Linked DNA regions of Homo sapiens: regions 2, 3 and 4 are each linked to region 1. The links come from fine-mapping of genetic effects on gene expression. A gene starts in region 1. Each other region holds a variant in brackets. All regions are shown on one strand. Distances are from middle to middle.

Evidence for each region. PIP is the estimated chance that this variant, and not a neighbour inherited with it, causes the effect.
Region 2: its variant is fine-mapped to the expression of PXYLP1 in whole blood (TOPMed, PIP above 0.99).
Region 3: its variant is fine-mapped to the expression of PXYLP1 in tibial artery (GTEx, PIP 0.90).
Region 4: its variant is fine-mapped to the expression of PXYLP1 in whole blood (INTERVAL, PIP 0.99).

Annotation. Positions count from the first base shown.
Region 1 is chr3:141,229,571-141,235,282 of GRCh38, forward strand. It overlaps PXYLP1 (2-phosphoxylose phosphatase 1), which reads left to right and starts at 2,255. Exons shown (of 6, transcript NM_001037172.3): 1 at 2,255-2,341. RefSeq lists a silencer at 1,994-2,373.
Region 2 is chr3:141,284,505-141,290,216 of GRCh38, forward strand. PXYLP1 (2-phosphoxylose phosphatase 1) reads left to right here. Exons shown (of 6, transcript NM_001037172.3): 5 at 2,810-2,949. Among named protein-coding and RNA genes, the nearest start is that of PXYLP1, 56 kb to the left of the region's middle. The variant CTGTG/C (reference allele first, on the strand shown) is at 2,163.
Region 3 is chr3:141,270,710-141,276,421 of GRCh38, forward strand. All of the region lies in intron 2 of PXYLP1 (2-phosphoxylose phosphatase 1), which reads left to right. Among named protein-coding and RNA genes, the nearest start is that of PXYLP1, 42 kb to the left of the region's middle. RefSeq lists an enhancer at 3,117-3,286. The variant A/G (reference allele first, on the strand shown) is at 3,202.
Region 4 is chr3:141,258,863-141,264,574 of GRCh38, forward strand. It overlaps PXYLP1 (2-phosphoxylose phosphatase 1), which reads left to right. Exons shown (of 6, transcript NM_001037172.3): 2 at 1,261-1,392. The coding sequence starts at 1,314. Among named protein-coding and RNA genes, the nearest start is that of PXYLP1, 30 kb to the left of the region's middle. RefSeq lists an enhancer at 934-1,678. The variant T/G (reference allele first, on the strand shown) is at 3,248.

The sequences.
Region 1 (5,712 bases):
TAGACATCCTCAGGGAATCGGGAAGGTGAGGTAAAGAAACAGGATGTGAGTCTAGGGAGTGTATGATGCCTGATTCCATGAGGGCCTGAGGCTATCCCTATACCAAGTGTGGACCTAGGGAAGGGGGTGGTACAAAGACACAGATCTCAGATAGGTTAAGGAGGAAGCTGAAAGCAGAAAGGGCCTGTGTCCTATCTCCAGGCTGAGACTCTGCCCCCACAGTATGCCCTGCGCTGTCAAGCAAAGCGCTGGTGTGGCAAATTTTGCAGAGAAATGGCTAGAGATGGTGCCCTGAGTTACCTTTAGTCCCCTTGTGACAGAGAAGGGATCCAAGAGTGCCTACATGCTCCCTGCTGAGGGTGATAGTGTGTCCACGAGTGAACCCACCTGCCATGGAGTCACAGAGGCTGAGAGCACAGCATGGACATGTGGCCCAATCCTGCAAACAAAGCCAGGTCCAAGGCTAGTTGCAATGGCTGGCAGAGAAGCTGATTTTCTGCTAGAACTAGAGCTGTGAGGCTGTGAGCCTGGATCTGCCAGGGTCTCATGTGCGCATGAAAGCGTAGTTCATGTGGAAGACAGCAAAACTGAGACGGGGAGTCCCTGAGACCCTGGGACTAAAGCCAGGCCTGAAGCAGACAGGCTCTTCATGTACACAGCGGATCAACCCTTTGTGATTTAAGTTAGTGTGAATTGGGTTGTCTTTTACAGCAGAAAGCACCTTGACTAACCCATGTAGAGAAGAGGGTGACAGTGTGAGCTAAGCAGTAGAGCCTGCAATCCGTGAGAGGACAATCAGAAGGGGCAGAGGAGACATTGTTGGGCGGGCTGCGGTGGGCTTCTGTGGGGGCCAGGTGGGAGAGTTGGGGGTGATGCCAAAGGGGACAGTGAAAAGATTTTGTGCTCATGGATTGGGAGAGGCTGTCAGTATTCAGGGCAGAAAAAAGGCCCGGGATAGCGCTGCATCGGGGGAATACCAGAGGCGGACAGGCAGCAAAGTCCGGTACTGACGAGCCATTAAGGCACCTGATGAAGAAGGCATGACAGGTGGCTGAGAGAATGGCGAGACCACGGGGATAAATGGAGTTGGGAGCTTGGAAGAGGTAAAATTTAGTGCCAGACGTGGTAACTTGAGGAGGAAAGTTCTAAGAAAAAAACCGGAGGGTAGGGGGAAATATGGCTAACATATCTGAGCCAAGTGTGTGGATTTGAGAGCCATCAATCAAGGAGAGAAAGCAGAAGTCAAGGGATGAGATCCTCCCAAAGGTGCACCTCAAAGGTATATAGTAGCAAATTCGAATCCGTATCTATTTTGCCTGAGGCTAGTTGTGCTAGGACACACAGGGTTGCTGTAGACCTCGAGCTGACAGCAAAGACCTCTCTGATAATCGCTGTTGGTCGTTTCATCTCCCACAGAGAAATCTGGTGGAAATCTCCACCAGCTGGAACCTAACATTTGCAATAAATGACCCACAAATACTGATCAAACCAAATACAACCGTTCGCCTATCAGATGTCTAACGGGGCGTTACAGGCAGCCCTCAAGTGCTCTGAGGATCTTCAGCAGCGGCTCCAAGGAAGCCGCGGGCCGGGAGCAGGTGGGAAGGGCGACTGCGCGGGGCCACGACCTCCCCGGGTCTCTGCAGACCGTTGGAGACGGAGCAGCAGCGAGGACTAGAGCAACACAAGGCCGGATGTGTTCTGAGCCGGAAGAGGAGTGTGGGATAGGCCGAAAGGGGTGGGGGGTGGGGGGTGACAGTTTGGGTCTACGTGGCAGCAGGCGCACCCCAGACGCGCGCGCCCACCCGGCGATAGCATCAGCGGCGCCAGGGCAGGCACATGGCCCCAAAGCACCCACACTAGGGCCCGGGCCGGCCAGGGCTGTGTTCCTGGGCCTTGGCGCGCCTCCGCGCAGTCCCTGATCGCAGGTCAGGAGTTGTGAGGCACGCGAGAGCCCTGCGCGTCTGTGGTCGTGGTCCCTGCGCGCTCGGCTTGTCCGTGCCCGTGGCTTTGCACGCCGAGGGCTCTGCAGACTGACCAGTCTCTCCGGGCTGTGCTGGGCCTCCCAGAGGCAGTGTCCTCTCAGCAACCCCGCGCGGTCGCCCCCGCCCAGCCGCACCGCAACACCGCCTCCGGGGCGGAGCTCCAGGGCTCCTGGTGCAGGGCCGGCCGAACTGAGACGGGGCGCGGCGGGGTCGGCAGGGGGCGCTGCCGGGCCCCGCGAGCTCCCCGGTGGCGGGTGCGCGCCGCCCTCGCCTCCCCTCGCGCCGGGAGGAGCTGGCGGCGAGCGCCGAGCCGGGCGCGCAGCGACGGAGCTGGGGCCGGCCTGGGACCATGGGCGGTGAGTGCGGCGCGGGCCTGGGCCGGGGCGGTTGCCGTTGGGGCCGAGCAGCGCAGAGGTTCTAGGCGGGTGGGCGTCCAGGGTCCGAGGTTGGGAGACTGAGGGGGTCCCCCTAACTCGCCAGTGGGAGAGGGGCGGGAAGGCTGGGGGCGCTTCGAAGCGTCGGGTCCGAATCCCGCGACTAAGCCTCCTCCTTTATCCCCGCGCTCGCCCCTGAGCCTAGGACTTGCGCCCTCTTTCCTGCCACTCCCCCCGTGCGCCCGGTGTCCCAGCCCCGGCGCCCGCCCCATAGCCCCCTTCTCCCAGAGCTGGCGCCGTCTCACGCCCGCTGCGAACCCCCGGCTCTGTCTCCAAGCCCTCGCCCCCCGCAGCCCCGCACTCTCCCGCGGAGCCCGCCTCCACCTCGCCCCCGCCCTTCCAGCCCTCTCCCGCACGGCCCCCGCACTCCCGCCGCTGGATTCCAGCCGAGATTCAAGCTCCCGGGATCCCCCTTCCCGGGCGGTCCTGAGCCGGCTAGTCTCCAGGTAAGGAGGCGGCCGCAACTTCGCGGCCTTTCCCGGAGACGGGGCTGGCTCCTCTTGGCAGCCACCTGCAGCCTGACGCCTCCGGGAGTCCCGGGCCTGGCCACGGGGCCGCCCGAGCGCAGGTTAACATTCCTGGATGCGCAGGTTAGGACCGTGTGGTGTAGACCCACGACGTTGCTTTTGCTGGTGAACTTGCCTATGTCCTGATCTTTTAAATAAGCTGGGTTTGTCACACACACACACACAGAGAGAGAGAGAATGGATTTGCTTAGGGTAGGTTGCCTGCTTTGCAGCCGCAGCTGCCTTTTAAATTGTACCTGTGGATGGTAAAGGATTCACGGTGCAGGACGTGGAGCCATATTTTCCCGCTTCGGCTGTGAGTTCAGCGATTGCGAGGGGGCTCTGTAGTGAGTGAGGTTATCACCGCCTGGCTAGCCAGTGTCTTTGTGGAAAGGCAAGGATCCTTTGTAAGCATTCAACAAGTAAAATCAGGAGAGATGGGGAATCAGATCGAGCTGTGAATGGGGAAGTGTAGGGGGGTGGATGGGGGATCGGAGAGTGCTCCACAAATGGAGCCGTTTGTTGATATTTGCAGAAGGCCCGTGGGTGTGAAGCTGGCAGTGCGGAGCCCACCCTTTCAAACGGGATGCGACTGCGGTCGGGCTTGGCAGTAACTTACCCTCCTCAGAGGTGTTGGTGCCCAATCGGGACATCTGTGGGAAGGGGATTTATAGCAGATGGATCAAAAGGCCTCGGGCGCGGTGGCTCACGCCTGTAATCCCAGCACTTTGGGAGGCCGAGGCGGGCGGATCACCAGAGGTCGGGAGTTCGAGACTAGCCTGACCAACATAAAAACCCCGTCTCTACTAAAAATACAAAATTAGCCAGGCGTGGTGGTGCATACCTGTAATCCCAGCTACTCAGGAGGCTGAGACAGGAGAATCGCTTGCACCTGGGAGGCAGAGGTTGCAGTGAGCTGAGATTGCGCCATTGCACTCCAGCTTGGGCAATAAGAGCAAAACCCTGTCAAAAAAAAAAAAAAAAAAAAAACCCTCGTGGTCCCTGGAGAGAGGTGAAGATGCACGGGACAGCCTGAAAGCCAGTGTATGAATCTGCCCCATCCCTTCTCCTGGCTTTCATTAAGTCTTGGATTAAATTAATTGCTTATCTCAGAGAAAGGATGTGTAGGGGGAACTTCTCTGTTAGGGATTGGCTCCTGGCCAGCCCATCCTCACTGATGCCTTGGGAGGCTGCGTTTGGGCACCAGGAACAGCGTGGGCCACCTGGCCTTTGGAGCACAGCACTCCGAGTGTTTGTGGAACTGCAGTATCTGTAACTCTTTTTTCTATTGATCAGCTTGAATAGTTAGCTCAATATTACTTCACTATTGATTAGATAAGTAGCCCAAGGACATACTGGGGCTCAGTAGGGTCTCTCTGTCCAGAAATTCCCGTGGGCTTCTCCTTGGCCCTCCCTACACCGCTCTGTGATGAGTCGCTGTCAGATGCCCCACTGTGCAGGAGCATCTTCAGGGATGGGTGGAAGGAACCACCTCTGTGGCCCCAGGTCCCTGCCTGGTCCCCCCTGTCTACCACATAGGGGTACTCAGTGTTTGTGAGGAAAAAAAATGGATGCCCCGGTGAATTAGTCTGAGTTCACAACCAATGTTTTCTACACTTTGCTACACTGTTCAAAATGTTACCCTTAAATTCAACAGTTTTTTTTTTTTAATGTGTCATATCACCAGAGACAAACTCATTTTTGTGTGTGTTTGGAGCAGTGAGTGCAATCTACGGATCAGTCTCTGATGGTGGGTCGTTAACCTCAGTGGGGACTCCAAGATTTCCATGAAGAAAATCAGTTGTCTTCATTCAAGAATTGGGGTAGGTGGTGGTGGGCGCCCTTGGAAGCTACTAAGTTTGTCTGCTGAGGGTTGAGTCCACCATAGCTTAACCTATAGTGCCCAGAGCTGTAGCCCCAGTCCCCTTTAACATTTCCTATCCCTGCCCACTGACGGAGGAAGCTCCCAGGGAGACAGGGTACCACTTGCAGAGCCCCACTGGCCACTTCAGATTGCACCATCCCCACTCCAGTGGGTGTTGCTTCCTGTGGCGAGCTGGGAGTGCCTCTTCTTGCACATTTCTGGCACTGTGGCTTGCAGCTCTATTGGTGGGAGGGAGGTTGGTGTTTTGGGCCAGTGCTTTGGTCTCTTGGAGGTGGCTATAACCCACTGGCAGATGGGGCAAGGTCCAGCTCTTGTGCCTCTGTCAAAGGCCACCCCCAGGCAGTACAGCCAAATGCTGAGGGGGTGGGAACACCTCATGTCCCCCTTTTTTTGTGGGGGAATCTGGAAAGGGCTAAAATTGAGACTGCCACTTGGCTGTGGGAGCCTGCACTGCCCCTGGCTGTCACGAACTTATCTTTCTTACCCAGATTGTCTCTGTCTTCAGGTCTGGCTCAGAATTCCTGCAGCTGGTGAAAATCTGTTTTCTAGAAGAGGTTTAATTAATGCCTGCAGTCTGTGAGTAAGAGAAAGGGAGGAGAGGGAGAAAGAGACATACTACTATCTAGAGGTGGGTGGGAGAAAGGATAGGAGAATGTTCAAGGTCCTGAAAATTCATAGGGGGAGATTTTGGCCCCAGAACCTGTCCCTGGACAAGGTTCCTGGTTGGTGGATAAGGAAGTGTGCCCACATTCCAGTGTAGGGGTTACCAGTTAGGAGCAAAGTCACTGAGATAGGAAAAATGACCCCATGGGAATCTGAAATCCATTTGCTGGGCCCATCATTCTGGTTTTGAGAAGGCCTTGAAAGCCAGCTGAGACTTGGGCTTAGCACGGCAGGAGAGC
Region 2 (5,712 bases), 55 kb after region 1:
ATCCACACTAGCCTTTAGTTTTAATACAGTCATCCATAGAGGATTGGTTCCAGGATCCTCCTTGGATACCAGAATCTGAGATGCTCAAGTCCCTTATGTAAAATGGTGTTGTATTTACACAGAACCTGCGCACATTCTCCCATGTACTTTACATCATCTCTAGATTACTTATAACGCCAAACACAATGTAAATGCTGTGTAAATAGTTGTTATTTGTATTATTTTTATTGTTGTATTGTTATTTCTTATTGGGTTTTTTCCAAGTATTTTTGGATCCACAGTTGAATCTTCCAATGCAGAATCTGAAGAGATGGAGGGCCGACTATATTTTCATCAAAATCTGAATATTTTAACAAACCGTATGGGAACTTATCGTATTCATTTCTACAGATTATGGAAGGCTTGCTATTTTCATGAAACATCCAAGGATGGGACACTTCACAGTTGAATTCACTCACATATATTTTTAGAGCATCTGCTATGTGCTAAGCACCCTCTGGGCTCCAGGGATGGAGCAGTGGACCAGGCAGACAAGGCCTGGGTAGTCAGATCCAGGTCCAGGACTCGAGTTACCTGGTCTGCTTTCCACTAAAAAGATACAGCCATTTGTTGTCAAATGTTTTTTTTCTTTTTCTTTTTCTTTTTTTTTTTTTTTTTTTTGAGACAGGGTATCTCTTTGTCACCCAGGCTAGAGTACAGTAGTACAATCACAGCTCACTGCAGCCTCGACCTCCTGGACTCATGTGATCCTCCTGCTTTAGCCTCCTGAGTGGCTGAGACTATAGGCCTGCGCCACCATGCCTGGCTAGTTTTTGTATTTTTTGTAGAGACATGGTCTCACTATGTTGGCCAGTCTCAAACTCCTGGCCCCAAGCAGTCCTCCCACCTCGGCCTCCCAAAATGCTGGGATTACAGGCATGAGCCACCATGCCCGGCCTGTTAGCTATTCTTTAAATGAAGTTTTTCTTCCACAAATCTTCATCTTTGCATGCCAAAAACAAACAACACAACAACAACAACAAAAAAAAACAAAAATAAAAAACATTGGAATGAATGCAGTTAGATATCATTAAGCAGTCAGATGCCCTGAAAACCTGGGTCACCTCAGCAAACACTTCCAGTCATGAAATTCCATTTCTAAAATTGGCAGCAAAGCTTTCTCAGATCCTCAAAAAAAGCTCCAACCTGAAATAATGGCCTGGTGCAGAACATTTGACTCCTGTTGATGGATAGCCTTTGTTTATGTGGATTACTCTTGGCAGCCTCATTGTCAGTCTGGACATTTTATTTCCCAGTTTGCAAACATTTATGTGCTTTAGCCTCAGGCAAAATAACGTACCCTGTTTTTGTGGAAAGGCATAACTCCCTTTAGCTATCCAGGGTGATTTATTAGACTATATTACATGTCTGGATTAGTATTCTCTAATTTAAAAACGTATTTTTAAAAGATGGATTTTTTTTTTAGCTTTATGTTGTTGATAGATAATAAACCCATTTTGGCAGCCATTTTTAAAGCACTTTCAAAGTTAACTGGGCCTTCAGACAGCAGGGGTTTGCCATTAGAACAGTTTATCTTTGCTTCTTTTCATGCTGATTCTTATAGAGTTTAGGCATGAACTACTCTATCTGTCCACTTCTCTTCAGCTGGAAAATGTATATACATTCATAGGCTACTTCATTATTCAAAGAAAAGATGTTTATATTCATAGGTCATTTCATTATTCAGGGTAATTGTATATTAGTGACTAGAAAGATTTACCACATATACTTTGTGGCAGAAATATAGATACTCTCAGATCTCATATATAAACTTTTTTTGACATTTATTATTACCCTATATTAAATGAGAGGTTGTATGTCCAAAACGTGGAGTGGATTGTAAAGAGGTATAGAGATCCTGGTTATCTTATTCAGTTAACAATTTTCCTAAAGGGGGATTTTTCAGAGGTCAGAAAAATTAAGGATTATGGGTGACCTTGATAAAGGATAGGGTAGATTTTCTAGGAGGAAGGGATAGCTCGTGGGAAGTGGTGGAAGTGTTGAAGAATGAGGTGCGTTGTGTGTTGGAGGAAAGAAGGCCTTTGGCTTGGCGTGGCCAGAGCACAGTATTAGGGTAGAGAGGGCCAGTGAGTACCAGGGCGAGGCCAGAATAGAGGGACAGG[CTGTG/C]TGTGGCCCCTTCCAGAAGGTGGTGATAGGGAAGGGCAGTGACTGGTCAGAGTTACCTTTTAAATCAATCCTTCTGGTGGTGGAGAAGGCAAGATTATTAGAGGGGCATGCTTAATCAGCAAGAAGACCAATAAAGAGCCCATTGCCAGCCAGACAAAAGCTGCCTGAGGCCAGAACCTAGGTAGTAGCTGTGAGGATGAAGGAGAAGGGGATGGAGAAGCACCAGGAGAAAGAATCTGCAAGACATGGGGAGCAGACAGCATGTGCAGGGGCAGGGAATGGAGAGAGTGGGACGATGCCCAGCCTAGGCGTGACTGCTGGGTGGGTGTTGGCGGCCTCCCGGAGAGCGAGCCCGGAAGGCAGCACAGGTTGGGGAGCCGGAAGATAGACGGCGAAGCTGAATCCCACAGTACTGAGTTCAGCAGAGGTTAGGAACTCTGGCCAACCTCACAGAGGGGATTTCATGTGTCAGTGTCAGTGGTCGAGAAATAATGAAATTGGAACTGAAAAGTGATTGAGCCGGTACCTGTTACTGTGGGTGCAAAAGGCTGCGATACACGTGGGATTTGGCTCGCTGAAGCTGGAAACTGTTTGGATTCTTGTGGAGCACTCTGACCTCTAACTCTCTCTATCATCTCTCTAGGAAACCGTATCACCCAAAACTGGAAGCTTTCATTAGTCACATGTCAAAAGGATCCGGAGCCTCTTTCGAAAGCCCCTTGAACTCCTTGCCTCTTTACCCAAATCACCCATTGTGTGAGATGGGAGAGCTCACACAGACAGGTATGTGTGACCCCCATGCGCTCAGGGGTTCCCCCACCCGCTCTTCTGCTTGCATACCTTCCGAGCAGTTCTCCTGGGCGGGGTGCTGTGCAGCTCAGAGGGGGTAAGCAAGGACTGGCTCTGCAAGGAGCTCGGTCACCAGGGCCTCTAAATAAACATCAGAGTTCTCAAAACTAAATAGAACCTTTCTCCTTCTTACAAAAACAATACGTGTTCATGAAAATAATTTAGGAAAGACAAGTAAAAAGAAGAAAAAGTTTAAGCAACCGTAATTCCACCACAGAAATAGACCCTTAAGAGTAACCCTTCTTCCTGTGCTTATGCACACACACACATCTTACTAAACACACTATTTCATAACCCACTTTTCCACTCAACAACACATTTTGTTAATATTTCCCTATGAATAACTGTTTATCCACTACATCATTTATGATAGCGCCATATTCTTTCACTCTGGATGGGCAATTGATCATTTATTTAACTAATCTCATGTTCTCAGATATTTCTAACAAAACTTCTAATAGGTTTTCATGTACAAGATCTCAGGGAGGAAAATGCATGGCACATTTCTACTGCATGTGGAGTTTGTTTGGCTGAGCTGAGTTCTCACAGAAGCACAGCTTTCCCTCCGCAGCCCTAGTCAGACCATGTGCAGTCAGTTCACCATCAGGGTAGGTTGGTGAGTTAACTGTGGAGTCACCTTTGCTGGGAATAGAGGAACAGGTGGTCCTTCAAGAGGTTTCAGTTTTCTGATTCTTCAATCTGGAACCTCAGAGGACCTTTGCCTGGTCACCAGCCTTTATGGGTGAATTGGGAAGACCCATTGGCCATGTTCTGTCTTCATCTTGCATCAGCATCTTAGGACTTCAGCAGGGATGGAGGGAAGGTCTCCATCCTATAGTAGGCCCTCTTAGGTTTTGCCATTATTATTGGGGAAATGATATTGGATAGACAGAGTGGAACAAGCTGAAGCCTCTGGAGGACTAGCCGTGGATAAGGAGTTGTGTCAAAAGCCTTTGGCAATTAGTTCCACATGCATTACTTTAGAACGAGGGTTTTCATCCTAGCAGATCCAACACCCCCTTTGATTACACAATTAACTATTTTGCAATCTCCCTCAACTATCATGAAGTGAAATTTAAATATAATGTAACCAGCCAGGCATGGTGCCTCATGCCTGTAATCCCAGCACTTTGGGAGGCTGAGGCAGGATAATCGTTTGAGCCTGAGGGTTCGAGAGCAGTCTGAGCAACATAGTGGAACCCCATCTCTACAAACAATTTTTTAAAATTAGCCAAGTGTGGTGGCATGTGCCTGTAGTCCCAGCTACTCAGGTGGCTGAGGCGGGAGGACCACTTGAGCCCGGGAGGTCAAGGCTGCAGTGAACCATGATCATGCCACTGCACTCCAGCCTGAGTGACAAAGTGAGGCCCTGTCTCAATGAATGAATGAATGAATGAATGTAATCTTTCTATGCAGTTAATTACTTAAAAGTTATACCAGGGTCCCCAGCGATAACAAATGAAAAGAAACTAATTTACTACCTAATTATATGTGTCTCTGTATAAATGCTTAAGAACAGCTACACTAGAAAATAGAATGAAATCTTCAAATGCTTGTACCTAAATGTGACTCTGACAACTACAAATGCAGATGATTGATGGATGCTGTATTGTTGACTCTTAATACCACATGTCAGGACATGGTTTTTCTGAAGTTCTGATCAAAACAAAATATAGATGTTCCTTAGTTTATATTGTATTTCTGGAAAATTCAGTGAACATTAATATTATACAAAAATGGTTTTGTGTTCTAGACACAAAAACAGAATTAGATTCTACAGTCTAAAGTATTCAAATATGTTTTGCACGTGATGGAATGTCTCATGCTGCATTCAAAAGTTGTGTGGGACAGAGACACGTGTCCCTTCTGGAGACCAGCCCCCCAGCCCCTACCCACTAGGTGCCAGGAATGCCTTTCCCCATACTATTGTGATAACTCCACCCCCAAGCCCTCTCTGAAGGCAGTAGCACTCTTGCTGAGAACTGCTGCTTAGATTCTCTGGTTAAAAATAACAGAAAACACCTCAAGCAAAAAAAGGAAATTTATTATAAGAATTCAGGAATGACTCACAGACTCTAAGATCAAGAGTGTGACCAGACCTCTAGAGACTGGAACCAGGAATAAAAAAGCTGTCTTGTCCCTGCCTCTCTCTCTAATTTTTTGTTGTGTCTGTCAACAAAATTACAGTCCCAGCCACACACACAGATGAACTTGCAAATCCAAATTCTTGAGAGAGGGAGAATCCTTGAGGTCCTAGGGGTTAGCATCCATCAGCCCTGGCTAACAGGTCAGGGTGACTGTGCAGAGAACAGGAGGTGAGGGCGCCAGTCTCTGGATCCAGGAGCTGCTACCTGAGAAGAGGCTGGGGGGTTGGCCCTCACACACCTAATCATTCATTCAGATCTTTCTTCTCAATTCATCTATCATCATCATCGTTTCTAAATTAGTGTTACTCTAGAAATCATTTTTGTAATACTGTCTGCTCCTGTTTCCTCATTCTCTTTTAATGGTCATTTTTATTTCTATTTTAAATATCATGAAAAATGCATGGCTGTTATAATCATCTTTTGTCCCTGGTGCACTTACGGCACCCTACAGTAACTATGTAAGGTAAGATTGCTCATGAGTGCCTACCCTGTTGAAGATGCTTTGGCAGCTGCTGAGTGTGAGAGGGTAGCAGGATGAATAGGACCCTCC
Region 3 (5,712 bases), 41 kb after region 1:
AAGCTGCTAAAATTGGAGTGGCCAAGAGGAGAAGGGAGATTGGCTGGTTGTGCTTTTGTGAAGGGGTGGACGCAGGGGTTTGATATCCCTTCCAGATCCCAAGTTGAAGGGAGCGCCTTTTAAGAGCCTGCAGGAAACAGGAATAATCACATCCAGGGGATGGATGTAGAAAATAGCATTCATTCATTCATTCATTTATAAGATGGAGTCTCACTCTGTCACCCAGGCTGGAATGCAGTAGTGTGATCAGGGCTCACTGCAGCCCCGAACTCCTGAGCTCAAGCGATCCTCCTGCCTCAGTCCCCTGAGTAGCTGGAACTCTAGGCATGTGCCACCATATCCTGCTCACTTTTTAAACATTGAAAATAGTATTTCTTGATTCCTTACCAGAATCCATTCACAGGTGGTATCTCAACATCATCATTACCACCCTGATCTGTAGGTATCATCACCTTCATTTGACAGATGAAGGAAATGAGGCACAGAGAGGCAGGGATACTTGCCCCAGGTCACACAGCTAGGAGGTAACAGAGCCAGGACATGAATTCACATCTTTGTAATACTATAGCTCATTTGCAGCCCCCAGCCCCAGGCTACCTCCCTGCATTCAGAACCATGGTAGCAGGGGCAACTGAGGACAGATGTCAGTGGAGTTCCAAGGAAAAAGTGACTGTAGTCCCCTAAGGAAGTGACTAGCCCAGTGTTGAAGTCCCAAAAAGGGCAAGGCAGACCCTGGAGCTAGGAAGGTAAACAGATAGTGGAGCTGGACCTTGGCCCCAAGAGGTTCTTTGCTGGTGTAGTCAGTGGGGTGACTTGTGTGGCAGCTGATCCCAGAGCAATGGAGACAGAGCTGAGCCAACACTTTAGCCTCATCATGCTCACATTTCCCGGGAAACTCTGGGTCCCTGATACCCAACTGTAATCTGCCAGGTATCTGTGTAATCAGAAGAAGGCTGACAGCCAAATCACACAAGCATGGGGATGGCAGGAGGGAGGGGTTTGGAAGCCATCTGACTCCCACTGCAGAAGTGTCTTCCACATGGGACAGCCTGTCTTTCCTGGAAAGGTCCCTTTATTAGCACAGCTGCCTAGAGTCAGGTCCTCATCCCTGGGCTAGTTAGCAAGGCGGAGACATGGTCCTGGAGGAGCAGCATGACAGCCCCCACCGGGCCATGGGGTTGGCATGAGAAGAGGAGCTGCTCCCAAAGGAGGATGGGTCTGTCGCCACAGAAGGAAGTGGGGAGAGATGAGCTGACCCAGGGTTGGGGCCCTTCATTGTGCTCCATTAAAGTCAGTTTCAAGGCACCTGCAAGGAGCTTGCATACAGCAGTTTCCTAAGGCAAGAAGAAGGCCACATATGCAGGTAGATTTCTGTCCTTGGCCCTATCCCAGGGCCTTGGTATAGGGAGGTGACCTGGATATCAGGGAGGTTGGCTTGACACCCTAGGGGAAAGAAACTGGTGTGTCCTTGTGCAAGTCAGAGTAACTCCCAGATAATGAGGTGGCAGCAGATACTCGGTTATAACTTTATCTGCTGCCCCTATGGTTGTTGAGTTTCAGGGATAACTAAGGTGCCCTGAGGTTCAAAGGCTAGACAGGGGTTTGTGGCCTAGCAACCTGTGCTGTTATGATCTGACTCTGACCCTGGCCTTTTCCCTCCTTATTTTCTATTCCATGGGGACCATCAATGGAATAAACAAAAAATCAAAATGAGCAAATCATCATTAGATGAAACATGTCTCTCTAAACAAGTTTCTAGTGTTCGCTACTAACCCAAGTCTAGTTGATTAAGTCGTGTTTTGCTTAAAGCTGTTATTGACCACTCCTGGGCTCTCTAGAGGGACAGAACTAATGGAATATATACGTATATATATATTTATAAAGGGGAGTTTATTAAGTATTAACTCACATGATCACAAGGTCCCACAATAGGCTGTCGGCAGGCTGGGGAGCAAGGAAAGCCAGTCCAAGTTCCAAAACTGAGGAACTTGGATCCGATGTTCAAGGGCAGGGCGCATCCAGCATGGGAGAAAGATGTAGGTTGGGAGGCTAGGCCAGCCTGTCTATTCATATTTTTTCTGCCTGCTTATATTCCAGCTGCATTGGCAGCTTATTAGATTGTGCCCACCCAGATTGAGGGTGGGTCTGCCTTTCCCAGCCCACTGACTCAAATGTAAATCTCCTTTGGCAGCACACTCATAGACACACCAAGGAGCAATACTTTGTGTTCTTCAACCCAATCAAGTGGACACCCAGTATTAACCATCACATCTGGTAACTTCCCAATATTTCCTTTATATCCATGTCTTCACTGCATCGTTTCCATACCTGCACCCCCCAACCAGCAACCAGTGAGTGCAGGGGGCCCCGTGCCTGAGAAGGCTATTTTCTCCTTATGGTCCATGTGCTTTCTCCCCACCTTTTCTTATTTAATGTCTGACTGTCCCCCGCAACTGGATTGTAAACCCCGTGAGGGCAGAGACCTTGTCCATTTTATTCTCTGAAGAATCCCCAGCATGTGCTCCATACATGTTGGATGGCCAGATGGACAAATGCATAAATACCGAGCTTAGTGGGTGAGCAGGTCCGGGCTTACAGGCTTCAGGACCTTAGGTAACTCCCTTGACCTGCCTCTGCCTAAGGTCTACTGTCTGGCTGATGGTTACTCTTCCTAGGTTGAGATCCAAAGCTGGGAAAAGCAGAGAGAGGATCAGTTTGGCTTGCATCCTAGCTATAGCTATGGGAATGTTTACTAGTAATACATACAGAGTCATCCACTGTGCATTCGGGAGATGGGGTGGGGAAGGGTGGTGGGGAGGGAGCCTGCGTGGGATAGCATCTGGTTGTTTTACTCATGATTCTAAGAAATTTGTTGGTTGCTTTTGAGAGGGAGGGTCCCAAGGAGATGCTTTAGAGGTCATGTTCTCTGCCATTTCTTTGAAATTGAGACCTTGTCGGCATCTTTACACATGAGGGTTATAGATGTGTGGACAGGATGAAAGTGATCGTAGATGAGATGAGCAGAGAACACCGCCATAAAAGAGAGGCTTATTTCCAAAGGTAGCTTACGGAAATTTGCCCTCCTACTTGGTAATCACACCACAGAGAAATTGCATGCCCGTTGGTACAGAGTTAATCATCAGTAAAAGATATCTCGTATCCTGTTATTCGTGTTGGTCCTGGTGGCACAGTGGCCCCAGG[A/G]CACTCATTTAGATTCATGGGTTTTCCCACCTACATAATGAAACTCGTTATCCTTCCATCTATTTATCTGCCCACTATTCTTTCTGATGCCCCCACAGCCTCTTTCTCTTGCCCTGTGACATCTGAGCTGCTGTCATCTGCCTGAGGTCAGCAGAGTTTCTAATTGTTCCACAGGACAGCTAGAGGCACGGGGGGCCTGGGCAAAGCCTGCTGGGAGGAGCAGTGTCCTGGAGCAGTGTCTGCCCCCAGCCCCTGGGTCTGTCCCTCAGCTCCCTTTATCTAGGTGATCGGGGCAAGCCTCAAGAGCTGATGTGGTGAGTAGCACAGCACCAGGGCAGAGGCGGCCTGCAGCCCGGGGTCTGCTCCTCCAGGCCCCTTCCCAGCCTTCCTCCTGGAGCCCGGCCTGCACATCGACCCTGGTGAGGCCAACCTGACCAGGCCTTACGGGACCCAAGGCGTATCCTGAGCCAGCTTGCTGACCCCCATCTGCCATGTTTGGCTGTGTTTCACGGCCTCCCCTCTGCTCCTCTCCTCTTCCCCTCCACACAGCCAGCTTCATCAGTTTTTCAGGCCCAGCTAGGTGTCTCCTCTGGGAAGCCTGTTTGGATGCCCCTCACCCCAGACTGGTTCGGCAACCCTCAGTGCTCCACATGAGGAGTCAATGAGATATTTCATCAAAAGCATGGAGCACAGCGTCTGCCCCAGTTCAGCAGGTATTTTTGGAAGACCTATCCTCTGTCAGTCAGCGGGGGATATAAATGTGAAAGACGCACACTCCCAGCCCTCTGGATGTTTGGGATGGCAGGGTGACAAACTGGGACACCCCTGCTTGCATATACTATGCTGTGAGCCATGACGGCAGCAGGAACTGGGTAGGCTCATAGAAGAGGATGTGGGAACTGGGGATTCAGGGCGGGCTTCCTGGAGGAGGTGACCCTAGGATCAGTTACAGTGTTGGTCAGATTTCGGGAGCAGAGGGTGAGAGTAGAGTTGCCAGCAAACGGTGGAGCATAGGCGAGAAACATCCTGTGGGGTGGGATGGCTCAGAGCAGCTCAGAACAGTGAGAACCAAGTTGGGATTGGGGTCAAGATGGAGCTGGGGAGACTTCTCCTCACAGCTTCTATGTGTCAGGACCTGTTTTGAATGCCTGGTATTGGGAAGGCCCCTTGTGAACTGATGCTATGTCCTGGTGACTCAGGGAGGTACAAATAGTACAGGGTGATCTCACACTCTGAACTAGTAGACACAGTTGACAGGCCCAGATACCAGAGGAAGCAGCAGATAAAATCTTTCTGGAGAGAAGGTCTCATTCTGATCTTTATCTGTGGTTTTCAAACCACTGCTTCCTTGGGTCATGGGTGGGTCATTTGCACCCAACCACCATGGTTCCCAAATGGCAGCCACAACAGGCCTCACCCCGGGTGCTTATAGATGAACTAGCAAACTGTGGGCACTCTAGGACACCCACTGTCCTCACCTGTGCCCCTCCATTTCTGTGTCACTCATATTATCCTGTCTCCTTAGCTGCTTCTGTCCCTGGCCCAGACTCCAAGGGAGTGTGCCCACAGGCATGGCCAAGGGGCCAGGACTTGGTAGATTTCACAAAAGAGCAGAATCAAGGACTGAGCCAGCCAGAAGGGCCAGGTCACTAAGAGACTGCCTTAGCACTTTTCTATATTTCCGTGCTCTTGTGCTAATCCCCCTGTAGTGAATTCCCTCTGAACACCTGGGCTGTGTTAGCCATCCTAGCACCTTCCAACTACTGGAAAGAAAGTGGCCCTAGGAGCAACCAAAGGGCTAATGTTGGGTGGGTGAATCACCAGTTCTGTATCTCTGTGATTGTTGTTTTGGTAACACAAGTAATGAAGGGAAATACGTTCACTGTAAAAAAAAAAAAAATGCTTACCTAGACAGCATAGAAATACAGAAATATATATTTCTATACATATAGAATACATTAATATGTGCTTACTATAAATACATATGCAGTCATGTACCACATAATGACTTCCATCAACGACAGAACACATATATGACAGTGGTGCCATATTATAATACCATATTTTTACTGTATTCTTTCTAAGTCGAGATATGTTTAGATACACAAGTACTTACCATTGTGTTACAACTGCTTACAACATTCAGTGCGGTAACATGCAGTTCAGGTTTGTAGCCTAGGAGCGGCAGGCTGACCAAATAGCCTAGGTGTGTAGAAAGCTCTACCATCTAGGTTTGTGTAAGTGCACTCTATGATGTTTACACTATGACAAAATTGCCTAAGGGCCATCTCTCAGTGCCTCCCCATTGTTACGCAACTCATGACTGTACGTATATGTGTGTGCGAATATACAAACAAGTAAAAATACTTTTTCACACCCCATTCCATCCTTTCCCAGAGGAAAACCACTGCTGTGTTATGATGGATAACCTTCTAGACATTTTTTCTATGCATTTACGTAATAAACAAATCCCTGTATATTTATGCATTTATGGTTTGTTTTTTTTCTTTA
Region 4 (5,712 bases), 29 kb after region 1:
GAGATGCTGGTTGCTGGACACACAGGCGCAATCGTAAGGTGCAAGTGTGTTTTCATCAATCTGTTAGCAAATGTTCTCTTTTGGTAGAAAGTCTGACAGGTCGCTTAAACAAGTGGGTTTTCAAAGTCACCTACTGGGCCCTTGGGGAGGAGGTGGTAGGCAAGGGGCTCTGGGAGTCTGGCTCCTGCTTCATTCCCAAAAGATGTGCTTTTCGTAGTACAGCTTATTGAGATAGGATTCACCCCAGGTGTACAGCTCAATGGCTATATTCAGTTATATTCACAGTTACACAGCCCTCACACATTAGCAGATGAGCTTTTATCTGATTTTGTCTGTCTGATCTCTGAAGAAGATTATATTTGAATGGGGAAAAGATTCAAGTTTGAAATTACCGTTACAATCTAACTGTAGTTTAAGAACCTTTTCTAAAGAGACTATGGTTTGCAAGTTCTCTTTAAAATCCCAAAGAGAACCAGGAAATAAACTTGACTTCTAAAACTGATAGGGTAGAAGTTATAGTAGTCATTCATTTTTTTTTTTTTTCCCACAGAAGGGACATTTAGGACCTTATTCAGCTTTTTTAAAAAGTCCTCTTGCACACTTCCAATGTGGTTAGGGGAATTTTGAATAGGCAGGACGAGGCTTCCAGAAGACCCATGGATACAGCTGAAACAGGCTTAGTGGTCCAGGATGAAGGGAGGTCTCAATTAGCAGATGGAGCTAGTCGGTGTAGGAGCAAATCCTTTTGCACACCCAGACCATCCCCCAAGGCATTGGGGGACATGTTGTGATGATTGTTGTTCAGATTAACAATTACAATTAAAGAATACCAAGATCATTTCAGCAGAATGTCCACCAAAAAACCTTGAAGATTTAAAGGTTAAAGGTCACAGCAAGATGAGTCCGTGTGAAGATTTCCCTTATTGTCCAGCACATTGTAAATACCCAATAAACATCCTTTGCGTTTTTCCTTGGGAAGGTCATGTCTGTAAAATATCTCATTCCTTGTTGATGTCAGATAAGGCATTCAGGAACTAGTTTTTGCTTACTAACTTGAAGGGAGCATTCTCGCTTGGGCTTATTTGGGGGCAAAGACTAATCATAGAGCATGCTGTTGTTCTCCAGCTAGAGATGCATGCTTCCCTGCCGGGGGACTGGGCTAATCAGATTATTATCAGTTGACAAGTTTGGTTATTTTCAGTTGACAAATTTAGTTCTCCACCTCTAAACACTCATTTATCACCTCTGCTTTATTCACAGGACATGTTCCCGATTTGAGGTGAAACCATGAAGAGAAAATAGAATACTTAATAATGCTTTTCCGCAACCGCTTCTTGCTGCTGCTGGCCCTGGCTGCGCTGCTGGCCTTTGTGAGCCTCAGCCTGCAGTTCTGTGAGTAGAGCCGGGCCCCGCAGGTCGTGGGAGGGTAGGGGCTTCATAGGAAACAAGGAGGCCCCAAAGGCTTGTTTTATAAATGAATGATGAGGCTGAAGACAACGAAGTCTTTTTATTGTTGGCACTCACAGTGGCCGGTTGCAAGGAGGGATCCTAAACCACCGAGCAGTGTTCTGTGTGCTCTTTTGACTTTTGCATGAATTCCTGAACTGCCTGGTTATTCCCAGATTTTTTGTTCAGATTCACCAGATGGAGACACTGAGTGGCCCTGCTTGACTTCTTATGCTGAACCACACAGAGCAGAGGTGTTTAGCCCTTTGATTGGGTCCTTGCAAGTTGGGTGTCTGTTTAGCCTTCAGTCAGCCGCGGGGCTGGAGTTGTTTCGGGGAGGGTGGGGAGATTAGGTCACCAGTATCAAACCCACCCCCCAGGCAGCAGGGGCTGCATGGGAAATCCCCTGTGACGAGACAGGAGGACTCTGATAAAGCCAGGCCATGGGCCTCACCATGCAGCATCCTCCACTGAGATTCCTAGGCTCAGGCCAGGCCCCAAATCTGTGCACACTACAGCTCACCTAAGAGTGGCTGTTCTCAGACACAGATCTGGCCCCAGGACCTCCTTAGTGGCAACACCTCAGTGGTGGCCCATGGTCTTCTGAGAGGCCCCTTGCCCTCCTGTGGCCCCTCTCTGCTGCTTCTGTGCTCAGATCCTGGTGCTCCTTTGCCAAGAGCGTTCTCCTCCTCACCCCCTCTCATTGTTTCCCTTTCAGCCCTTGCCCCTTCTCCTCTAGGACCCTTCCAGGAATACTTAAGGGTTTGGTGCTTCTTTTATATACATCAGGATGCCCTGAATCCTTGAACCTGTCTCCCTCCCTCCTTCCCTTCCTTCCTTCCCCCGTTTTTTTCTTGAAATAGGGTCTTAGTCTGTTGCCCAGGCTGGAGTGCAGTAGCACGATCACAGCTCATTGCAGACTCAACATCCGAGTTTAGGAGTTTAGGTAATCTTCCCACCTCAGCTTCCTGGATAGCTAGGACTGGAGGCGTGCACCACCACACCTAGCTAATTTTTTGTATTTTTATAGCGACAGGGCAGGGTTTCACCATGTTGCCCAGACTGGTCTCAAACTCCTGACCTCAAGTGAGAACATAGGTGTTACATAAGCATAAACCTGTGCATTATGGATTAGTGCCATTTTTTTCAGCACAATAATAAGCAACCAATAAAGCAATTAAATAAATGGAGCAATTAAACTCCATTTCTACAGAAATGGGGAAATTCCAAAGTCACAGTTTACCTAGAAGAAGAAGAGCAGTAAGAACATCAGCCTCCCTAAGTTCTGGTATTACAGGCGTGAGCCACCACGCCCGGCCCCCTCCTTTCACTAACCATGCACTAGTATAATTTTCAGTTCTTGTGTCTTTTCCTTCTACCAGATTGTCTGCTCGTTGAGAGCAGGACCACATCCTGTTTCTCTCTGTATCCCAGGAACCAGCACTGCCTAGCACGTAGTAATATTTTGTAAATGTCTGCTGAATGCATGAATCCATGCCTGCTCTAAAAAGCAGATGGAACCTTATTTTCTTTCCTTCTGTTGCTGTGTATTTGAAGCTGAGAAAACATCTGTGTGATGCCAGGAATTGTGTTGTTGCTGTCACCTGCCTTCTCTCCGTTTAACCACCTCATCCTGATGGGTGGGAGACAAGCAGTTGGCACCCACACCACCCAGGACAGCTGTGTGAGGAGGGGCATTTCTGTTGCAGTTTGAATGATGGAAAGAAGGGCAGGTGGCTCGGTAAGTGGGATGTTATGAGTACACAGAGGAACATGGGGAAGGCTTGGCTCTAGGAGGAGG[T/G]GGTTTCAAGAGAGGAGACTTTGAGGAAGTTTCTCTGATTCACTTCCAATTGTGACATATTTCCATGTACATGCATATGACAGCCTATTTCTAATAGTAAAAAGAATTTAAAATACTCGTTTTATCCTTCCAGAATTGGAAAAGAGGTCAAAAGAAGGTGGGCATCAGAAGTTTAAAAATATTCCAGATGGCAAATGAATTGTAAAATCTGAATCCTTTCCAAAAAGTGTGGTAAGATATTCAGTAGTTTAATTGTTTATAAATTTTCATTAAAAATTTTCCATCCTTTGGTTGGAGAGGTAGGATGTTACAGTCAACCCTGATTTTATTTTGAGAGGCTGACAGGTTCTGAGACATGAATGTGTGTTACTTGTGTTTGTGGCATTTCTCTTGCATGAGCTGGTTTCCACGTCACTGAATTGGCCTGTGTGTTTTGCTTATATAACTCTTCTGAAAGTACCTTCTGTTTTAGGAAAGCCAATTTTCAGCCATACTTTTTTAAGGAAAATTTTGCAGGGTAAATTAGCCTGTCTGGGTCTGAGCTCTTTATTCTTGGATACGTTGGAGATCGGAAAGATATTAAGATATGGACGTTCTTACTGCTCTTCTTTTAGGTAAACTGTAACTTTGGAATTTCCCCATTTCTGTAGAAGTGAGTTTAATTGCTCCATTTATTTAATTGCTTTATTGGTTGCTTATTATTATACTGTAAGAAACAGCACTAATTCATAACGCACAGGTTTCGCTTATATACCACTTATGTTCTCATTCTTATCCTAAAATATATGGACTTTTTTCTTTACCATTTCTTTTTACTTATTTTTGAATACCAAATTAGCATATATAATTACTTTAAGTAACATATTTGAGGCAACTAAGTATAACTCGGTTTTCTCATGCTTTAAGTAAAGAATATAGCTTTGTTATCTGAAATGATCGTATATCTTATTTGGTCTTATTGGTAGTTTTCTTTTCCTGATGTTTTGAATGTGAAGAAGAAATAGCCCAGGTTACGATTCAAAAATCAGATTGCTTAAATAAGTATGTCTTCCTCTGGATACAGAAAGTATGTAGTGAACCTACATATATTTATTAAGTGCTTATGTGTGTTTGACGTTTTTCTACACTGTGGAAGTGGAGGTAGTAAGGAAATACAGAAAAGATTAAGATACTGTTCACAGTTTCTCAAAATATGTTCATCTTAAATGGTGCTAATGACTTGCTATATGCTAATTGTCTTTAATAAAAATAAGTCTATGTTTTCAAGTCTTTAATGTTTTGTGTTTGGAAGGTGAAACATTCTGAAATTCCTGATGTTTGAATTGTAGAAGGGAACAGGCAAGGCATAGATATTTTTGGTTATTGTAGTTAAAATACATACAAGTGGAAAAATAACTTCAAATTAAAGGACTCCTTTAGTGCAGCAAGGAAAGACTGTCAGGATGTGAAGACTTAGGAATCATGAGTTATGTTTCCACTTTTTGTGCTCATTTGTAATCATTCACTTCCCTCCTTGGCCCTTGCATTTTCTTAATGCTGATTTTATGCTCATTTCTCCATGTTCTGACCACCATTCCCAAAATGGTGTTGTGACAGGAGCACGCAGGCTCTAGAATCATAATTTGAATGTCAGCTTCCCTGCTAAGTGGCTGTGTGTCCTATTCCTTCTTCTGTAAAATAGAGTTAATTATTGCTGTTTTGCAAGGTTGCTGTGAGAACGGAGATACGGGAAAACCCTTGGCTCATGGAAGCATAGCCAACATAAACCTTTTAAGCAAACCAGCGCAGAGTTCCGTCATAGTGCACCATCATCAGAAACCAGGGCTCCTGGTGTTCCAGAAGTTGCCAGAGTTTATGTTACTTCAGCCACTTGGTGGGGAAAGCTTTTGAAATAGATCACGCATGCATTTGTTTTTAATCAGAGTGCGTTGGCCATGATGGGGTTAATTTATACTGAGCACATGGCACCCATATCTGGGGTTTCCCTCTTGGTCAGGGCCCCGATTGGCCAGAGCAGAGTCGAAGGAAATGCTGAAGGTGAACTGGAGATTCAGATTCCCAGTGGGAAAAGAGGAAAAGAGGAGGGCTAACCTGCAAAAATGAGAGTGAGGGTTGCTGTCAATATCTGAAGGGCCCTTTCTGCAAGAGGAGGTGAACATGGAGACACATTTCAGTTAAGCATATGGTAGAACTTCCTAAAAGTCAGTGCCATGCAGAGGTGGAATGGATGGTGTGTTCTCCGTCACTGGAGTCTGCAAACTCTGGAGGGCTGCTCTTTGAAGAGTAAAGTATTGGACAGGTCATTGAGTCTGATCCCATTTAAAGTCTCTTTAAACTCTAGGTTTTATGAATTTTATCTTTTCTCATTGATCCAGTGCCATGAGTATGTGACACTTTGTTCTTTAGCAAATGTTCTTTAGTTTCCACTGTGTGTTAGGCCCCGGGCTGAGAGTTTAATCCCTCAT